Regions from separate parts of the Homo sapiens genome. Here regions 2, 3 and 4 are each reported to be linked to region 1. The links are microRNA targets in miRTarBase. Many come from high-throughput screens and were not tested one by one. Region 1 holds a microRNA gene; each other region holds the end of a gene's coding sequence.
Evidence for each region. The annotated mature microRNA hsa-miR-328-5p reads GGGGGGGCAGGAGGGGCUCAGGG and lies in region 1 at 1,316-1,338, shown strand. An mRNA with a match to its seed (bases 2 to 7 or 8) in the 3' UTR can be bound and repressed. Matches are read on the target gene's strand: a 7mer-m8 pairs with bases 2 to 8, a 7mer-A1 pairs with bases 2 to 7 and ends in A, and an 8mer does both.

Region 2: the mRNA of TACC3 is a reported target of hsa-miR-328-5p. Seed matches in the 3' UTR shown: 7mer-m8 at 944-950.
Region 3: the mRNA of ACOX1 is a reported target of hsa-miR-328-5p. Seed matches in the 3' UTR shown: 7mer-A1 at 2,471-2,477 and 7mer-A1 at 4,614-4,620.
Region 4: miRTarBase lists BAG5 as a target of hsa-miR-328-5p. Seed matches in the 3' UTR shown: 8mer at 1,965-1,972.

Annotation. Positions count from the first base shown.
Region 1 is chr16:67,198,633-67,203,704 of GRCh38, reverse strand. MIR328 (microRNA 328) reads left to right here and starts at 1,310; the gene lies at 1,310-1,384. It overlaps E2F4 (E2F transcription factor 4), which reads right to left. Exons shown (of 10, transcript NM_001950.4): 10 at 4,787-5,072. It overlaps ELMO3 (engulfment and cell motility 3), which reads right to left and starts at 4,574. Exons shown (of 20, transcript NM_024712.5): 1 at 4,301-4,574; 2 at 4,112-4,152; 3 at 3,949-4,021; 4 at 3,704-3,754; 5 at 3,344-3,513; 6 at 3,155-3,254; 7 at 2,897-3,048; 8 at 2,737-2,815; 9 at 2,270-2,320; 10 at 2,063-2,185; 11 at 1,832-1,963; 12 at 1,627-1,728; 13 at 1,421-1,529; 14 at 1,172-1,308; 6 more. The coding sequence starts at 4,378.
Region 2 is chr4:1,744,093-1,749,164 of GRCh38, forward strand. TACC3 (transforming acidic coiled-coil containing protein 3) reads left to right here. Exons shown (of 16, transcript NM_006342.3): 14 at 426-532; 15 at 620-740; 16 at 856-1,079. The coding sequence ends at 921. Among named protein-coding and RNA genes, the nearest start is that of TACC3, 25 kb to the left of the region's middle. RefSeq lists a silencer at 4,730-4,929.
Region 3 is chr17:75,942,556-75,947,627 of GRCh38, reverse strand. It overlaps ACOX1 (acyl-CoA oxidase 1), which reads left to right. Exons shown (of 14, transcript NM_004035.7): 14 at 833-5,072. The coding sequence ends at 880. Among named protein-coding and RNA genes, the nearest start is that of FBF1, 4.0 kb to the right of the region's middle.
Region 4 is chr14:103,555,788-103,560,859 of GRCh38, forward strand. BAG5 (BAG cochaperone 5) reads right to left here. Exons shown (of 2, transcript NM_001015048.3): 2 at 764-5,072. The coding sequence ends at 4,034. Among named protein-coding and RNA genes, the nearest start is that of BAG5, 4.3 kb to the right of the region's middle.

The DNA of each region.
Region 1 (5,072 bases):
TGCCCAGCAAGGCACTGAGCCCATCTGTCCACAGGTAGAACTGGGGGTGGCACAGAGCCGTGAGGGTCTGCCCATCTGCCTCCCCTGCCCACCTGCCGACCTCAGCCTGGCGGACACTCACCTCCCGCTTGGAGGGGGCAATGAAGTTGAGGTACGCTTCCTCCTCCCCACGGTCATAGCTGATTGAGAAGGCCAACTCATAGAGGTCCTGGGGAAGCAAGGGAGCGGGGACACTGAGCAGGGGACAGGGTAGGCGGGGGCGGGTGGGAAGGAGCCCCTGGCCCGCTGTACTCACCTTGTTCTGCTTCCCGGAGCCCTTCTCCCGGACATGGGGGCAGTCCTTGCCTGTCAGGAGTGCCCTCATGTCGGCCACAGGGACTGCAGGAAGAAGGCTGGGCTGAGCACTGCAGCCCTGGCAGCCCCGGGGCCCAGGGCGGTCTGGGGAGAGCAGGTATCTGGCCCCCGCCCCTGCCCGCCTTACGTTGCTCGGGCAGACTCTCCAGGGTAGGCGGGCTGGCGCCCTCCTCCATGTCTCCGTACTGCAGCAGCTTGTGGTTGGGGGACAGGCAGCAGAACCACAGCTTATCTGCGTGGAGAAAGGGAAGAGGGCCAGAGTGCTGAGAGGTCCTGACACCAAGCCAGCCGCCCTCTGCCTGCCCTCTGCCTGCCCTCTGCCCCCTGCCCATGCCCATTCAGAGACCCTGGCGCCGCCGGCTGCTGATCTTGCGGAAGAGCGTCCCCTCACAGAGGCGGAGCAAGCGCTGCTGGCGGATCAGGCCCATGAGCTCTGGCTTCAGCTTCTCCCGCAGCTCCCTGATAGAGGGGTGTCACTGAGCACATCTGACCTGGGGAGTAGCCCAGGGGGCACCAAGGAAGGTAGGGCTAGGACTGAGGATCCATCCCCCCAGACTCACAGTATAGGGGGAGCCAGTGTGCCCTCCTGGTGCAGCCGTTCAGTCTGCCGCAGCCGCAGCACCTCCCCATAAGTGAGCGCATTCACCTTGGTTCGGAAGAGCTCCAGGGAAGTGGGCTTCAGGGCCAGAGTGCGGGCCAGCTGCTCCCGCACCACCTGCATGACCTGGGGCCGCCCAAGCTCAGCTCAGGGCCTAAGCTCTGTACCCAGATCAGCCCCCTGCCCTGGCCCAGGCCTCCCAGCTCCCACCCCACCCACCTTGTCGAAGTCCTCCTGTGTAGCCCGCATCTCCTTCCAGGTCTTATTCAACAGCTGGATGCCCACACAGAAGAGCTCGTGGAAGCTCTGGTCTTGGCCGAAGAACATGGGTGAGAAGTCCTGGGCTGTCTCAGAGCCTGGAGTGGGGGGGCAGGAGGGGCTCAGGGAGAAAGTGCATACAGCCCCTGGCCCTCTCTGCCCTTCCGTCCCCTGCTCTTGGCCATGCTGTGCCCAGTCCAGGCCACTCACAGGGCTCCCCAACACGGAGCAGCTCACACAGCAGCACCGTCAGCTGGATGCTGCCCCGGGCAAAGGGGCACTCGTGCTTGTCCTCGCGGCTGCTGTTCTCCAACACAAACTGGGGGCGCAGAGAATGGGGCAAGGAGTCACAGCTAAGCCCATGGGGACCCTGCCTGGGGGATGCTGCCACCCCCCCACCCTACCCTGTCACCGACCCGGCTGTACGCGCTGGGCGCGTTTCTGGAGAAGTACAACATGTTGTCCAGGGCCAGCAGACCGGGGGGCACGCGCTCCAGGTCCTGTGCTGGGTTGCTGTTCTGGGGGAAGTGGGCACAGGCAGTTCAAGAAGGGCCACGGCCGCCTGGAACAACAGCCCTGGGCTGAGGCAGGGGTGGGGAGTTGGGTAGGGGTGATACTCACAGAAAAGCCCAGTTTGCGGAACTCTCGGGCACAGAGGGAACGGCGACGGTCAGCACTTAGCCCGGCACCCGAGGACTCCCCCTCCACCTCGAAGGCAGCCTGGCGTAGGACCTGCAGCTGCTCCCGCTGCTCCTGGGGTCAGTGTTGGGTGGCGGGGGAGGGGATCAAGATTATAGATTCAAGGCCAAGCTCTAAGCCACCCCCTGCCTTGTCCTCACCAAAGACACACACCTGGCTGTAGGGGTCCAGGGGCGTCCGCATGCGCGGCTCCAGCAGCCCCAGCATGAGAGCCTGCAGTACGTACAGGTGATGAGCCATCTCGTCGCCCATTGGTGCTGCACTGTGGATGATGTTCTGCAGGACAGCCAGTCCCTGGTGTAAGCGAGGGCTCACGGGGAGGGAGGGGCAGAGAGGTCCCCCTGGCCCACCACTTCCTACCTTATAGATGAACTGGCGAAGGTTCCTCTGCCAAAGATAGTCAAGCATGTGCTGAGGGGGTAGAAAGAAAGGGGGCTTAGGCTGGGCGCGGTGGCTCACGCCTGTAATCCCAGCACTTTGGGAGGCCAAGGCGGGCGGATCACGAGGTCAGGAGATGGAGGCCAACCTGGCTAACACAGTGAAACCCCGTCTCTACTTAAAAAAAAAAAAAAAAAAAAAAAAATCAGCTGGGCGTGGTGGCGGGAGCCTGTAGTCCCAGCTACTCGGGAGGCTGAGGCAGGAGAATGGTGTGAACCCGGGAGGCAGAGCTTGCAGTGAGCCAAGATCGCACCACTGCACTCCAGCCTGGGCGACAGAGCAAGACTCCATCTCAAAAAAAAAAAAAAGGGGGGCTTAGAGGATTTTGCTTCAGGGTGGGGCAGCGCCCACCGGGTGCTGCCCCCATCTAGCCACCGATCGACACTCACCTTGCGTTCCACAGGGCTGGCCCCCTGCAGCAAGGCTGTCAGCAGGGCCATGGCCTTGGTTTGCAGCTGCTGGTTCATCCTATGGCAAGAAGAGGGCTCAGTGGAACATTCAGGCTCCAGCCCTGCTCCCTGCATCTGGACCCCAGCCCCAGAGGCTTACACCTGTAGGTGCACCAGCAGCCTATCCAGGGGCACCTCGCTCTTGACCAGCTGGCCCAGGGCTGGGCTGCTCAAGGTCACACTCTCCAGCAGCCCAAGGGCCAGGGGAGGCACGGAGGCATCCATGAGGTTCATGTTCACGTAGCACACCACCTGTAAGGGGCGGGGGTGTCACCACCTCACCCCCATGGAAGACCGGGTCTACCACTGCCCCACTGCTCCACTGCCCCCACCCGCTGCCCTAGGAAAGCCCACCCACCTTCCTCACAAAGGGGATGCTCAGAGTCTCCCAGGACACCACGCCGTGCTCCATGAGCTCTGAGAAGGCCCTCAGGCTGAGGGCCAGCACCTCTCCTAGGCTGGAGGGGGGACATCTGGGGCTGAGCAGGACCACCCCAGGACCAGAAAGACCCACCATCTCCCCCAGCCCACACATCCCTGTGCTCACTCGTCCCCATCTTCAATGATGGTGCCTAGTATCTGGAGCCCATTACGGCTGATGACCTCCCTGGCAAAGATCATGTCCGAGGCCAGCGGAACAAGGCGCCTCAGGGCTTCCCGGCGCCCTTCAGGACTGTTACTCTGCAGCCCACCCAAGAGCTGCTCAGCCTCAAGGTCCTGGCAGGAACGGAGCAGGAGCAGAGGTGAAGAGGCTGGGCATGGTAAGGGTGGGACCTGGAAGTGTGCGGCCCCGGGCGTCAACTAGGTGGCGCAAGGCAGGGCTGGGGCGGGGGCCTCCGGGGCGGGGGGCCTCTGGACCTGGAGCAAAGGGGCAGGGATGGGGAAGGCGGGACGGGAGGGGCATTACTGGGGCCGTGCTGAGGCACAGGATGCTGCCATTCTTGATCTCCGCGCGGTTCTGGAGAAGACAGCAGAAAAGGCAGCGAGGTCAGGGAGGGCTCCGAGGACTGATCAACTGGGGTGTCGGTGAGGGCGGCTGGGGGTGAATAACAGATCGCGCTCCGGTAGTGGGATGAAGAGCCAGAGTTATCGGGGCCAGGTGGGTTAGAGGGGTCGGAAGGCCGAGCTTGGGGCTGGGGAGAGGGGACTCACATTCTCGGTGATGTATCTCCGGTGCCCATCCGCAAACTGCAGGGCGTAACGCTCAGAGTGCGTCAGGCTCCACCTGAGGGGCACGAGGCTCAGCGAGGCCGGCAGGGGGCGCCGCCCCTCCTGCCCTCCCGCCCTCCGCAGGCCCTGGCCCGGCAGCACTCACGCGTCGCACACCTCCTTCAGCACAGCGGCCAGGGGCTTCGCCTGCAAGTGGAGTGGTCATTCTCGCGGCCTGGGCAGGGAGGGATGGGGAGGAGCCTGGGGGGAGGGGTGGGGCGGGCTGCCCCGAGGGCCAGGGGGCTACCGGGAGGTGGGGCAGTGGGGCAGATGGAGGCGGGACCAGCCGGGTGACCTGGTCCAGCTGGATGAGCTGCGGGATGGCGTCACGCATCTTGATGGCAATCTTCACCACGTTCCGCGGAGGCGCCATGGTCCAGCTGGGACGTGGGCGCCTGCACTTTCCGGAGACCGTGCACCTGCGGCCAAGGGTGCACCTGGCCTGGGGCCCCTGGGGACGAGGAGGTCCTCCCTTTCCGAGACCTGACCTCGGTGTCCCGCACTCGCGGCCCAGACTGCTGCTCCTGGCCATGCAACGCGGCCTTCCCAAGGGAGCCGAGGTTAGTTCCGGGTTGGAGTCTGGGGGTAGGAAGGTAGGACGGCTCCGCCTGCCCCGCCCCGCCGAGGCGGCCCCGCCCCACACCAAGGTGCGGCAGGTGGGGGCGGGGAGGGCAGGCTGCCGGAGGCCGCCCCACCCCTAGTTCCAGCAAGGTGACCCACCCAATCACACTGCCAGTCCAGCACAGTCCCAAGGAGGGTCCCCAAAGAACCACATCAGAGCTAGCCTTAGGCATGGTTTTTATTCACTTGAACACTGTACAAATATTACAATTTCCTTTTGCTGCAAAAAGTATAAAAATAATCTTTATATAGGAATCCATTCGTTACTGTAAATCTTTCTAAATCTCTGCAAATGGCTCTAAATGAGGGTAAATGAAAAAGCCGAAATGAAGAGAGGGTTATGGGGCAGCAGGAGGTGGGGCCAATCATCAGGGCTGGACCACCCAGACTCCTCCCCAGAGACCTCTGTTCCTTCTTGGTAGCCGCCCCCACCACCTGCAGGTTCT
Region 2 (5,072 bases), not on the chromosome of region 1:
TGTGAGGAGCAGGCGTGTCTGGGTAACCATGTGGCTCCTGCTGGCCTCCCCTGCCTGTCCCCAAAGCACAGGGCTCAGCTCCAGAGGGAGACGGGCTGGGCTGTCAGTGGTCCCAGGTGCATCCCACTTTCCAGCAGCACTTGGTGCCAGCAGAGGCTGCAGGTGTGGCAGGAGGGGGCCCAGCCGTGAGGGCACCAGGTTCAGGCCCGGCATCTCAGGGTGGAGAGCCAGGGCTGTCCTGAACCTCCAGAGGGGGTGAGCTGGGAACTTGTGTGAAGGGGCTTTTTCCAAAAGGAAAACGGGAGCTACTGGCTCACGGCTGATGCCCCAGACAGCCTCGAGGATCTGCAGGTCCCCAGACACCAAGCCTGGGTGCTCTCCAGCAGACGGCGTGGTACCCACAGCTAATGCCTGCCCCTTCCTAGAACGAAGAGTCACTGAAGAAGTGCGTGGAGGATTACCTGGCAAGGATCACCCAGGAGGGCCAGAGGTACCAAGCCCTGAAGGCCCACGCGGAGGAGAAGCTGCAGCTGTGAGTGCTGGGCGAGGCCCCACCCTGGAGGGAGAATCTGAGCACCTGGGCCCCAGCTCAGCCTCTGCCCCGCCCCTACCCCTCCAGGGCAAACGAGGAGATCGCCCAGGTCCGGAGCAAGGCCCAGGCGGAAGCGTTGGCCCTCCAGGCCAGCCTGAGGAAGGAGCAGATGCGCATCCAGTCGCTGGAGAAGACAGTGGAGCAGAAGGTGGGTGCGGGAAGCCCAGCTCAAGGGGCCGTCTGGCAGCACCTTCTAGAAGGCCCTTGGGCCTGCTGCTCCCTCCAAGCAGGGAGAAGCCCCGCAACTCATCTTCCTCCTCCAGACTAAAGAGAACGAGGAGCTGACCAGGATCTGCGACGACCTCATCTCCAAGATGGAGAAGATCTGACCTCCACGGAGCCGCTGTCCCCGCCCCCCTGCTCCCGTCTGTCTGTCCTGTCTGATTCTCTTAGGTGTCATGTTCTTTTTTCTGTCTTGTCTTCAACTTTTTTAAAAACTAGATTGCTTTGAAAACATGACTCAATAAAAGTTTCCTTTCAATTTAAACACTGAAGCCGCTCTGGTCTTGATGAAGCAAAGGTTTCCCAGCTCTAGCCTGAGGCTGAGCCGACCCGCAGGTGCCCTCCCTTCCCCTCAGAGCTGGCCACTTGGTCCCTGCCTACCCCAGGCTCAGGCCACCCTGCCGAGGGGCAGGGACAGCCAGTGGATAGAGGAGGCTCAGGCCTGCCCAGTCTGCCCCGGCCACCTCGGGTTGGCTACATGGTCCTGGCCTCAGGTACACACATCAAAGTCCAAATGGACTCGTTTTTTTGTTTGTTTTTTTGTTTTTTGTTTTTTTTGAGACAGTCTCTCACCCACGCTGGAGTGCAGTGGCGTGAACTCGGCTCACTGTAAGCTCCGCCTCCCAGGTTCACGCCATTCTCCTGCTTCAGCCTCCCGAGTAGCTGGAACTACAGGCGCCCGCCACCACGCCCGGCTAATTTTTTGTATTTTTAGTAGAGACGGGGAAGTTTTCATATAAAACAAAAACTGTGAACAGCCAGGCATGCATGCCGGTGGCTCTGATTCTGGTGCCGACCTGGCGAGCCTGCAGCCCCAGCTAATTGAGCGCTCACCTGGGTGTGGGTGTGGAGGGAGGCCCCCTGCAGGTGCAGCTGCTCAGCTCCTGTCGTCCTCGTCCTTGGGGGCGTGGAGACTTCAGAGCAAAACAGGCTTCCCTGAGGAAGTTCTGTCTCCACACGGCAGGGCTTCCTCCCCGACCCTAACCCCATCTCCAGCAGTCCCGTCCTGCGGATCTCAAACTCAGACAGGCACACTGGAACCCAAGGCAGTTCCAGGAGCCCTTCTGGTCAGGCAGAGGCTTGGCCCAGCTGGGGCATCCCGGGAACCTGGGTACCGAGCTGAGAGATGCTGGTCACTGGGTTCAGCCATGGCACCTAGGACCCCAGCACCAGCCAGAGGGCCAGGGCCTCCTGAGGGGCCAGGCAAGACCAAGGGTTGACGCTGTAACCTGTTTCCAGGGGTCGGTGCTGCTGCTGTGCCCAGATCACGCCGTCCAGAAAAGCCGTTTTCTCCCATCAGTGAAGAGTGGGGCTCCCCACATAGGGAGGGACCCAGGCCGAGATCTGGCCGCAGTCACCTGGCCCCAGTAGTGTCTGAGCCTGGGGGTTGCAGTCCCAGGACCTGCTTCCAAGGCTCTGCGAGTCTGCCCCTTGGCCTGGTGAGCAGCACTGCAGTACTGACCTCGGGTGGGCGCAACAACACCCCCAGCCGCCGCCAGGGGTCGCTTGCCGCCATGGGCCATGCAGGGACCGGACCAGGTGGGTGACACCCTGAAGGGGCGGGGCACGGGTGCCAAGAAGCCGCATGGACCGCCAGGGAGGCTGAGGGGCGGGCAGGGGCTTCAGCCTGGGTGGCCAGTGGGGTGTCCCCAAGGGCATGAGGGTGCATTTGTTCTTAGCACGTTTGGAGGAGGGGGCCTGGCACAGGGATGGACGGCCACAGCGGGCCATGGCCAGTCACGGCTGGGGCAGGGACTGGGCCAGCCTCAGGGGGGCCTGGGGGCCACTCCCTCCCCCTCCACAGCCCACCTGTGCTCCTGCGGCACCTCCTGACTGGCTTCCCAGGACCATCGCGCCCCTCCCTCCCGTGGGCAGCAACCCCCATCTCAGCCCCGAGCCTGGGTAACAATAGGGTGTAATCCCTGGCTGAGGGGCCTCTGAGAGCCTTCCGTGGCCCACTTCACAGACGAGAAACCGAGGCCCACAGACCAGTGGCCATTGGCCGGGGGAGACGGGCCAAGCACAGGGTGTGGGCCCCCTCTCCTGCTTGGGGTTGAGGATATGGGGGAGAAGAAGGGCCCTCGAGCCTCCAGAGCTCACCAGCTGCCCTATGGGCAGCACGGCCCGCCTCGGCCTCCCCGCTGCCCACAGGCATGTCCGGCCGCAGGACTCCCACCTCTCTTTGCCGGGTCAGCTCTGCTCTGACAAGGTCTCAGGACACAAGGCGGCTGCCAGGTCCTCCTCCTCACTCAGCCCTGCCGGTCTGGCCTTCTGGCTCCTCTGACAGCTGCCCAGGGCCCTGTCCCCTGCTGGGGCCTCTCTGAGCCAAGCCGGGAGCCTGCCCGGAGAAGGCCGTGCAGGGCGGCTGAACGTGTCAGGGCACCTGGCCGGGCCTGGGGCCGCGCCGAGGACACCGGCCACCAGGCAGCGTCCTGGGCCGGGAGCCTCTCTCCCAGGACAAAGGGGCCTTGTGTGGCTGAATGGGTGTTTATCCTGGAGCCTGAGTTAACTCAGGGCTGCGAGGCCGGGCGGGGGCCCTGGCACTGGCCTGCCTGGTAAACATGACCTGAGCTGGGCACGCAGCCGTGGCCTGGACTTCCGCAGCCCCGGACCCCCTGCACATCCACGCAGTCGCCTTGTGGGGGGCTCAAGGAAACAGGAGCTGTCCTGGGGGCTGCCTCCGTGGGAGTCCTCATACACAGTCATGGAGGCAGCGCTCGGCTCTGCCCTTCCCACAGCTCAGGGCAGGGCTCAGAAACACCCCCCCGACGTGCCCCATTGGAAGGAGGGGTGAGGGTTAGACGAGGTCGTGAGGGTGAGGCCCTGGTCTGCTGGGATTAGTGTCCTTGCGGGAAGGCAGCAGGCCGGGAGAGCACTTTGGAGGAACTGACCCGCCAGCACCCTGATGGCGGACTTGGCGCCTCCAGAACCCAGAGAAACACGTGTCTGTGGTGCAAGCCATCTGGTCCCAGGCAGGATGAGACCCCGCCGTCCGAGGGGCTGTCCAGCCTGGTGCCCACCCACTGCCCAGCTCCCCCTGCAGCCAATATCCAAATCCCGAGGGGAGTGCAGGGCTCAGCCCACATGGAGAAGCTAGGTCTGTGGGGCACCCCCACCCCTCTAAGGCCACCTAGGAGTGGAACCTGCAGCTGCCTCCCTGGGCTGGTCAAGACCCTTTCAACAGGGCCGGTGGGGCTGCCCCTCCAAGCTCACTCCCATGCCCCCATGCTCTCTCCAGGGGCCGCCAGCCACCAGGCTGGATGGAAGAGGGGGTGGGGGCGAGGGAGATAGGCCAGGACAAGCTGACCACAGCCCGAGCGTTCCCTGCCAGGCACCCCTCTGCAGCCCCCACCCTGCCCTACCCAGCCTGAGCCCCGGGAGAGAGTTCACCCAGCCTGCAGGCAGACCCAGATCACCCTCCCATGGACTCAGGAGCTGTCCCCAGCCCAGGCTGAACCCCAGACCCCTTTCGGTCCCCAAGGTCCATGCCAGTGAGGGTCGCTGCAAGCCCACGTGGTTGCCGGAGGTCCCTCCTCCAGCCCATCACTCCACTTTCTGGGAAGGACCCCCGGAGGCCTGGGGACTAAGCCCCGGCGCCGCGCCGGACTGCCCTGGTGGGCTGAGCGCACATCCCTTGTCTCTCTTAGGGAGCTCTGTGAGGGGCAGGACCGGGCCAGCAGCCGCTCAGGAAGCTGGAGCACGTGAGGGAAAAGCCCTGTCCCCACAGGGCTGAGGCTGGACGAGGTCCAAGGAGGGGCTTCTGCCCGAGCCCAGGCCTTCCTTGGGGTGTGCTCCAGTAGCAGGTGCGCGTGCCACCTGTGCCGTGGGTTGGAGGGGTGGAACGTGTACGTCCTGGCTGCCCCCGAGCTCTGGGGACCCCGAACTCCTGGGGCTTCTGCCTGAGCCTTTGGACCCCAACAGCCTGCAGGGGGCGCCATTGGGCCACCGGAGCCCCTTCTGCAGACCCGGCGCGACCGCACTCCTGCCAGGCTGTTCCTACCGCCTGGCCACAGGCCTCCAGGAGGGGCCCCCACCCTGGGGCGACGAGGAGCCACCTGGGCCCGCACCAGGCCTCCCCACAGGGCCTCCCCACCTGCCCCCTCCCCACTGCTCTCCCTCCCCACCGCTCTCCCTCCCCACCGCACCCCCTCCCCACCACGCCCCCTCCCCACCGTGCCCCCTCCCCACCCAACGTGCCCCCTCCCCATCACGCCCCCTCCCCACCTGTCCCCCCACCACGACCCCTCCCCACCTGTTC
Region 3 (5,072 bases), not on the chromosome of region 1:
AGCAGCAATGACTATCAACTCGTGGCTAGTTGTGTTTCATCTGAACCTTCATCCCCCTCCTCCTGGGGACTATTTTGAAATAAATCTAAGACATCAGGGCCAGGCTCAGTGATGCACACCTGGGAGGCCGAGGCAGGTGGATCACCTGAGGTCGGGAGTTTGAGACCAGCCTGACCAACATGGAGAAACCTTGTTTCTACTAAAAATACAAAATTAGCCAGGCGTGGTGGCGCATGCCTGTAATCCCAGCTACTTGGGAGGCTGAGACAGGAGAATTGCTTGAGCCTGGGAGGCGGAGGTTGCGGTGAGCCGAGACCATGCCATTGCACTCCAGCCTGGGCAACAAGAGCGAGGCTCCGTTTCAAAAAAAAAAAAAAAACTAAGACATCAGATAATTTTATCCATAAATAATTCAATGCATAGCTCTAAAAGATAAGGACTCTTCAGAAACAACCACAGGCTGGGCACAGTGGCTCACGCCTGTAATCCTAGCACTTTGGGAGGCTGAGGTGGGTGGATCACTTGAATTGAGGAGTTCTAGACCAGCCTGGCCAACATGGTAAACCCCCATCTCTACAAAAAAATACAAATAGCAGCCAGGTGTCATGGCACACACCTGTAGTTCTAGCAACTCGGGAGGCTAAGGTGGGAAGATCGCTGGAGTCTGGGAGGCAGAGGCTGTAGTGAGCCAAGATTGTGCCACTGCACTCCAGCCTGAGCAACAGAGCAGGACTCAGTCTCAAAAAAAAAACAAAAACAAAAACAAAAAACAGTATACTATTTAACATGGCAAACTCTTTATTAGTAGTTCTTCTCTCTCCTTTCCCCACAGGTCCACGAATCTTACAAGCACCTGAAGTCACTGCAGTCCAAGCTCTGAAGTGTCACAAGGACAAGTTTAATCTGCTTCAGAAAGCGCCTGTGTGCAACTCAAATTTTGTGGAATCTTTTTCGAATTCAAATAGCTATAGAGCAAATGATAAATTGACCCCTTTTTATAAATGGAGGGAAAAAATGAACAGATTTCAGAGATTAAATGAAAAAAAGCAGATGTTTTAAGTGCAATTAACACTGAAAGAGACCTGTTAAACCATTCAGAAAAAGCTTAAGAAATGCGATATGACTTCCTTTTGTAATGCTGCTGATCCCAGTAGACTATGACTTTTGATAATTAGCAGAATTTAACTACTGAGTAGTTGATTATTTTCACATTTTAATTGCTAATCACTGGCTATATAAGTGTTTTTAAGCAAAGGTATTTTTGAAGTGGTGTAGAACCCTTCCAAGCTTTCCTGCTCAGTGTTCTACCAGACTTACCCTGGGGCCTGGCTTAAAAGCAGGATTGAAGAAAAGGGACTGGGGGAAGGAAACTTATTGGAAAACTTGATGCGAATGAGTTTCTGCTTGGCACAGTCTCTGCCTGCTTGCTCTCCTTTGCTGATGGATTGCATTTATCAAACTATTCATGCTAGCATTTTTCCAACGAGGGAACTTATTCCGCACGGGCCTACTGTAGGACCATTGTCTCGTGTAATTAGGAATTTTCCATTTGAAGGATTGCTAAATTGTCACAGTAGTAGGAAGTATAGGGAAACCTCTCAGCTGTGGCACTGTTGTAGCTTTGGAGTGCAGAGTGTAACTCTGGGACAATCAGATTTCACATATTCTGTCATCTTGGCATAAGCCATTAAAAGCTTGGAGATTACTGTATTTGGCATTAAAAAAAAATGTCACTTAGGTCAGCACTCCCAGACGTAGCACAGAAAAACCCTTTGACACAAACCATGTGTTCTGATTTTTGGTTCAGAAAATATTGAAACTGTGAGTTGTTTTTTTTTTAACAACTGGGAAAAAACAAAAACAAAAAACTATAGTTAGAAAAATGGAAGTTCCATAGGTTCTATTTCTTACTCTATGTATGGCTTTGTTTTCAGTCTATTTCTAGGAGCTTTCTCTGAATCGCTAATTGTCCTTTCAGTTGAAATCTAATTTATACAATCATTCTATACTTAAAGGTTAAATACATCTTAATTAATTTTTTCTTAAAGTCAATGTAAGTCACTTTGTTTTGTTTTTTTTTAATCTACGCCATATGCCTCATGAAACCAGCTGTTCTAGAATCAGTCCTGAGAATATGGCTTAATTCCATGGAAACATAACTCCTATCTTGGGACCTGACATAATATCTATCTATCCTGGGGAACTGGTAATATGAGACTTATAGGTTACAGCAGAAATGCTACATGTTGACAAAAGCCTTAATCGTTCCACTGGGAGAACTAATTGATAATTGTGTTAAGATTGAAGATTAACCCTGTGTTAATCTCACTTGAGTCTATCCTGACAGTAGTTCAGATTCTGGAAAATGATAAACTGACCTGCTAGATGTAGAATTGTTTCAAAATTAGTGTTGAAATACCTTGTTCACAGATGAATATCTGGGCAGGATCTGAGGGTGTTTGGAATGACACCCCCCAATCCAGTTGCATAGATGGGATGTCTTTGCAGGTTTGAGGAGATCATCGACCTGCAGAGCCCCCTTTGACCCAGTACCTCACGTTTTATTTAAAATCTAAATCTGGGGCCAGGCGTGGTGGCTCACGCCTGTAATCCAAGCACTTTGGGAGGCCGAAGCGGGTGGATCACCTGAGGTCAGGAGTTTGAGACCATCCTGGCCAACATGGTGAAACCCCGTCTCTACTGAAAAAAATACAAAAATTAGCTGGGCATGGTGGTAGCACGCGCCTGTAGTCCCAGCTACTCGGGAGGCTGAGGCAGGATAATCGCTTGAACTTGGCGGGTAGAGGTTGCAGTGAGCCAAGATGGTGCCACTACACTGCAGCCTGGGTGGCTGAGCGAGACTCCGTCTCAAAAAAAAAATCTAAATCTGACATTTGATGCTATTTTTATTAATATTGGAATGTTCTGTCTTGAACTTTATTCAATATAATCAAGAATAAAGATAGAGTAAACGTCACTGATTTGTACTATTAAGAGAGAAAAAATATGCCACACAACTAAACATAGGTTTAAATTATGAAGAAATTTAGAATAGAGGTTTATTAGATTTAGGGAACACTAAGAACAAAAAAGGAAGGAGTGATACCTGCCTGAGTGGACAGCTGTAAATCAGCTGTAATTACTGCAGTTGTACCAATAGTTGTGAGTGGCTCCAGTCACTTTAGGAGTCCTTGGAAGTACTTGGTACACATTTGTTGGCTGTACCTTAAAGGAAGTGGCAAGTCCAGTTTGTTCTCTCTACCACACTAGACTGCCACTGACAAGTTTGGGTCTGTTGGATTCAAAATTTTGTAAGCCATTTTCACAAGTACAAAGATACATTTTAACCTTGTCTTCTCCAAAATTACTGAGTAGGAATTTTATTTTTATCTTTTTGAGACAGGGTATCACTGTCACCCAGACTGGAGTGCAGTGGTGGGATCTTGGCTTACTGTGACCTCTGCCTCCCGGGTTCAAATGGTCCTCCCTCCTCAGTCTCCTGAGTAGCTGGGACGACAGGCACGTGCCACCATGCCCAGCTAATTTGTTCTATTTTTTCTGTAGAGACGGGGTTTTGCCATGTTGCCCAGGCTGGTCTCAGACTCCTGGGCTCAAGCGATCATTTCGCCTCAGCCTCCCAAAGTGCTGAGATTATAGGTGTGAGCCACAGCATCTGGCCCAGAGTGAGGAGAATTAATGAGATTTTTTGTGTGTGTTAGATAATATTGATTTAAGCCTTTTTTTAAAAAGTACTCTCAACCAAATACAAAATTGAAAATGTGAGGTTTAATAGAAATGTGTTGGCTATTTGCAATGGATTTTCTTCTTGCCCAAGTGTTTGGAGTTCTACTTTATGCTCTGTATTTAAAAATTAGTGACCTCAAAGCAGAGTTGATGACACAGGCTTTGGGGCCCTCATGTTCTTGTCTTTAGAACATATCACTACTAAGTATCAGCTTATCTTCAGAACATTACAACATTCACCGTGTTCATATGCTTTCTGAGAAGTCACCACTTGTAATTTCAGATCACATACACCTGAAGGCATTTTATAGTTCCTAAAGTTAACATGTTAGATCTTTTTTTTCCACCCCATGAGGGTCTCACTCTCACCCAGGCTGGAATGCAGTGGTGTGATTGTAGCACACTTTGGCCACCAACTCCTGGGCTCAAGTGATCCTCCTGCTTTGGCCTCCTCTGAGAAGCTGGGATTACTGGTGCACACCACCACACCTGGCTAATTTTTTATTTTTTTTTATTTTTGGAAATAGGGTATGGCTATGTTGCCTTGGGCCCGTCATGAACTCCTAGCCTCAGGTGACCCTCCCACCTCAGGCCTCCCAAAGGGTTGGGATTACAGGAGTGAGCTACTGCACTGGGCCAACATGTTAATTTTTTTTTTTTTTTTTTTGAGATGGAGTCTCCCAGGCGGGAATGCAATGGTGCGATCTCGACTTCACTGCAATCTTCACCTCCCGGGTTCGAGCGATTCTCCCACCTCAGCCTCCTGAGTAGCTGGGATTACAGGCACCTGCCATCACGCTCGGCTAATTTTTGTATTTTGAGCAGAGATGGAGTTTCACCATGTTGGCCAGGTGATCTGCACTCCCACTCCCCCCACACTTCCCAAAGTGCTGGGATTACAGGCATAAGCCACAAGCCACCTCACCCAGCCAACATGTTACATCTTAATTCTTGGATTTTCTTCACTGCAGGGCTTTGGGTGGAGAAATAAAACTCTTCAAATGCATGATCTTGGAGATCCCTGTGAATCAATAATTCTTTAGACAACTGCGGCTCAAAATCCCTCCTTTCCCTTTTCCGAGTTATTCCATCCATCTTATTAGAAAGGAAGTGAATTAGGTGTAGGTGGTCTGTAACACCTGCACATCTTTTTATACGTGTAGAGGGTATGCCTGGGATATATAGGTTGTCTTCAAGCAGTAGCTGCTACTACAGCTAGAGAGAGGAGGAGTGCCAGGAAACTGATGACCTGAGACCAAGAGTCTTGTTGATGTTCTGACTTAGATAAAGGTTTTGATCATTTTCATGAAATAATGCAGGGAAGTCAT
Region 4 (5,072 bases), not on the chromosome of region 1:
CCGGGAAGGGCCGAATAGACAGAAAGACTCCCACACCTCCGTCACAAAGCAGTGAAGACGGTTTCATAGCACACTATCACAACTCTCCTCTGGAGAGTGGATCTTTCAAGAACTGTCTCAGAGGTTCTTCTTTCTAAAAATAAAGTCAATTCTTATTTGAGACCCAGGCATCCTCCTGAGGGAGCAGAGCATGAGGCCCCCACCCCCATCACACACATACTTCCTAGGCTGTCTCAACAAGAGCACAGTGACCTGGTCACCTGGGCCTGGGTCCTGGCCCACACACAACCACCCTCACCTCCTTACAGCATGGCCACCAACTGCAGCCAAGGAGGCCACCTGCCCCCAGGCCTGCCTGCTGTGGGCTCCATTAAGGAAGGACTCCTCAGCTGGGCACGGTGGCTCACACCTGTGTCCCAACACTTTGGGAGGCTGAGGCGGGTGGATCACCTGAGGTCAGGAGTTCGAGACCATCCTGGCCAACATGGTGAAACCCTGTCTCTACTAAAAATACAAAAAATTAGCCAGGCGTTGTGGCAGGCACCTGTAATCCCAGCTACTCGGGAGGTTGAGGCAGGAGAATTGCTTGAACCTGGGAGGCGGAGGTTGCAGTGAGCCGAGATCGCGCTATTGCACTCCAGCCTGGGTGACAGAGCCAGACTCCGTCTCAAAAAAAAAAAAAAAAAGGGCTCCGCACCCAGGTCAGACAGTTCATGAAGGTGATAATATATAGAGAACACACACCTCAGACTCACAGCCTTTCTCCACTGCAAGCGTAAGAGACTGGTTTTATTTCAAGAATAACTAAGGGTATATTAACACATGTATCTCAAAGTAACATTGAATTATTGAAGACATACTGTTCCAATACTCAAACAGTTCACAGAGAGGGGACAGGAACCAATGTACTGGAAAAACACACTTGTATTATATGTAAAAATCGATGGCCAATATTTCTCTTATTAAGAGAAAAATACCCAACAAATTAAAAGGTGAAAAGCTGTGCTCAAAAAAAAAATAAAAAAACCCAAAACCTTGCATGCACAAGCTAAGCTCAGACCCTTAAAAACCAGATAGAAATTGACAAAGTCAAACAAAGGAGAAAAACTAGCTGAACTTCTCAAACTAAATTATATCAAATATATGTGCATTTTAGCAAAATAAACCACTAAACTATACTTTGTAGACATATTCATTACATTTATTTTAATAACTACTTCATTATAGGCTGACTGGCTTTCCTGTGTGGATAAAGTGTGATCTGAAAGCAACGCTGACTGAATGTAAATAAAGCAAACGTTCCCAGCCATTTTTGGCATGAACATGGACTACAGCGTTTAATGCAGACCCAAAGCCACACATTTTTGGGGAGTAGGTTTTACTTGCAGTACAGATTCTTTTCATTACAGATCACAAAAATACAATACAATGTGACAAGCCCAGTTTAAGAATTACATGCAGTAGCTCATATTAACACAAACAGCTCCCCACGAAGGCCGACAAGAGCTAAATCCGGTGTCAACAGGGTTCATTGCAGGAGTAGAATAATCCGGTACAAGGAACGAGAACAGATTGAAACCAGAAACAAAGCCATGCCTGACAGTCAATCAAGGTCAATCTGATCATTTCCATGACCAATTACCCATGTGAACAATTCAAAATGACGGTGGAAGAGCTGAGCACCCTGTACTCACACACGATGCCCACAGCTTGGCAAAAGGTACACAAACACTTGTTTGAAAAGAATGACTGAAACGTCTACTTTCAAAGAACAATGGACACTTTTAAAGGGAATGCTGACATTTAACTTTACAAAATGAAATTTAAAATGTAAGTAGTACTCTGGGGAAGAATATGCCTGAAGCGTAACCATGATTTCCCAGTGGTATAATTAAACAGAGCTCTAATTTAAAAACTCTTCCTGGGCTGGGCGCCGTGGCTCACACCCGTTAATCCCAGCACTTTGGGGGGCCGAGGCGGGCGGATCACGAGGTCAGGAGTTCGAGACCAGCCTGACCATCATGGTGAAATCTCAACTCTATTAAAAATACAAAAATTAGCCAGGCATGGTGCCACATGCCTGTACTCCCAGCTACTCAGGTGGCTGAGGCAGGAGAATCGCTTGAACCTGGGAGGTGGAGGTTGCAGTGAGCTGAGATGGCACCACTGCACTGCAGCCTGGGCAACAGAGACTCCATCTCAAAAATAAATAAAAAATAAAAACTCTTCCTCAAGATTTTAAGAGCATTCTAAAATTATGATACAGAAAAGCAATCCTACAACTACTGTGGCCAAAACGTGGATTCCAATGACCTGCCTTGAGCCCGCGGTTGCCAGGAGTTGGACCTGCAGTAGTATGGGAAGCTCACGGCCTAAATACCGACTGCCCTCTGACCCCACCGTCCAGCGATTCTAGAACATTTCTAGTAGGAAAGACATAGCAAGGGATTTTCATGATTGGGAAATACTGAGAGACAAGCTGAAGATTTGTTAAGGGCTATGCTTCTGTCATCTTTTAGGTATTTAAGGCTACTCCTTTAGCTAGCTACTTTGAGCTGTTTAAAGTGACTATCTCCCTACACAGAGTTACACAATGAGCATCTCTGAAAGAGAATATTACCCTGGATTTCCAAAGATGTACTCTAACAGGATGACCAGGCAAAAGGTGACCCGGGGGAGGAGTCTGTTATAACACTCGGACCCACATGTTCTCAAGGCACTTCAGAACTTTGGGAAATCATTTTGTACCGGATCCTCAGAAAGCATTTATGGAAATACACATCCTTTAGAAGAGAGATGCTTCACGCACGACTGACTTTAATGGCTCTTTCAGGCAACAGAGAAACCACCACATGCCCATGACATGAGCTCAGTTGTTCAGCAGGCACCCAGAGGAAGCCTTTAATTCCGAGCAGGTTTCACTGATTGGTCCTGGAGCAGGTGTAGTTATGACATTTACTAAGTGAGTGGTTAACAGCTGACTGCCTAGAAAACCTAGGAAGGCCTGGTCCCTCTGGGTTACTGACAGCGTCTACCCTCACGTTGTAAAACAGCACCGGGGAGGTGTGACAAGGCTGTCCATTTTACAGCCTTGGACAACAGAAGAGAACCATTATGTGCTACATTCAGACTTTCTGATTTAGTTTTAGTATAACCTGACATTGGTAACCCGTCTCCAGTATTCATCCTCCAACTACAGGTATGAGTGTTTCCTTTTTTTTTTTTTAAAGGCCCATTAACTTAATTTAAATGTTCCCATCCTTATGAATTTACTCACTAAGGAAAACTATAAGCTCAGATTTTACAAACAAAAGCAACTTACAAGGTATTATTGCTGGTCCTTTATCCCTTCTCTTTAATGCAATCTCAAAGGTTTTTTGGCTATTAGTTTTCATAATTTTCTTATGTTGCACACAAAAACAAGATTCCTCTCTAAAACGTAGAGGATGGGGAAAATGCAGATGCTGTTTTTCCAACTAAAAATGTTTACAAAAGAACAGACTGTCTGAACAAACAAAAAAACCCCACCCCGTTAAGCTGGGTAGGACCAATCAGGCCTTATAAGTGAAAAAAAAGCCTTCTATCGAGCATAATGAAACAGAACATGTACTGCTTGTGTTTGAACCTTACTCTTATTTAACCAAAAATTTCCCCTTTCTCATAATTTTCCTAGTATTATGTAAGGTTATGCCTAGTTCTAGATTCTGAAAGACCTGCATTTTAATGCTTGCACAACCCATTTAAAATCTACAAAAGCTGCCTCTATTTTGTTTTCTGATTAAAAACGCAAAAAAAAGGACAAACCAAACAAACCACACCACATCATACAGATAATGATCCGAATGGAAAAGTTAACGTGCTGTAATGATATTTGTCTTGCAACATCAAAAGCAGCAGATACTGAATAGAATTTGCTTCAATCATAAATACTGAGACTGAAATATGCACGTATAAATCAATGAACTGAAAGCTCTCTATACATAGAAGCACATATGAAGTGCAAAACAGTATCAAAAGTGAGATCTCTGGTATTTCAGTACTCCCATTCATCAGATTTCAGGTCGAGATAGCTGAGAATATTCTGCGCAAGCCTCACAGCTTGTTTCCTGGCAGCCTTACACTTCTCTTCTCCCTGCGGATCAACAGCATCCAGGGCTAGCAGCTGCTTGGTGAGCAGCTCTTCCAGCCGGATGTAGTTCTTATCGGTTCGATTTCCATCAAATGAAAGAACTTCTCCCTGGATCTCAGACAAGTTTCCAAGGACGTTCCAGACGGCTTTATGGGATGGGTGCTCCTCACAAGCAAACAGCTTTCTTTTCTCAAGGGCCTCCTTCAAGTCAATATATGTGATCAGAGTTTGCACCTCGATCACTGCTCTTCTCCTGGCTTCCCGGATGCAGGGGTTTTTTTCAAGACTTACCTCATCCAACTGTCCAATTAAACCCTGCAATTCTGTTTTGGAGCTCAGGTACAATTCAGAAGGGTTTTGTGCTTGGAGAAGTTCATTTTTTATTTCTCTCATTCTCTTGAGGACCTTTTCTATTTTTAAAATGGAATGATTCTGTCTCAGGTCAAATGCTTTAGTTGTGTCTGCTTCCTCTTCCAAATCCAGATATTTCAATAATTTGTTGATATCTTCTACTACCTCCCTCCGATAATTTCTGATTTCTGTCCGGCCGCACACATCTAGAGCATCCAGGTCAGCGATCAGCCCCGAGAGCACACAGGATAAGTGCCTGCAGGTCTCATTGTTGTTCACACCCATCAGAAGTGCAATCAGGACCCCTCGGGCCTTGTTCACCTCACACATCACGAAGTTGATTTTGGCAACGGAAGGATGTGCATCCTCGGAAAGCGGCAGGGAAGGCTGCTTTTTCATGCAGTCTTCGATTATCTCTTGCACCGCACAGATTTTGGTTAAAGTGTGATACCTTGCTTTCCGCAAGGAGATTTTTCCTCCAGTTTTAACATGTGTCAGCCTCAGAATGATATCTTGGATGCCTTCTTCAAACTCATCAGTTACGCAGTTGCCTCCATTATAAAATGGCACAATTTTCTCTCTCACGAGGGAC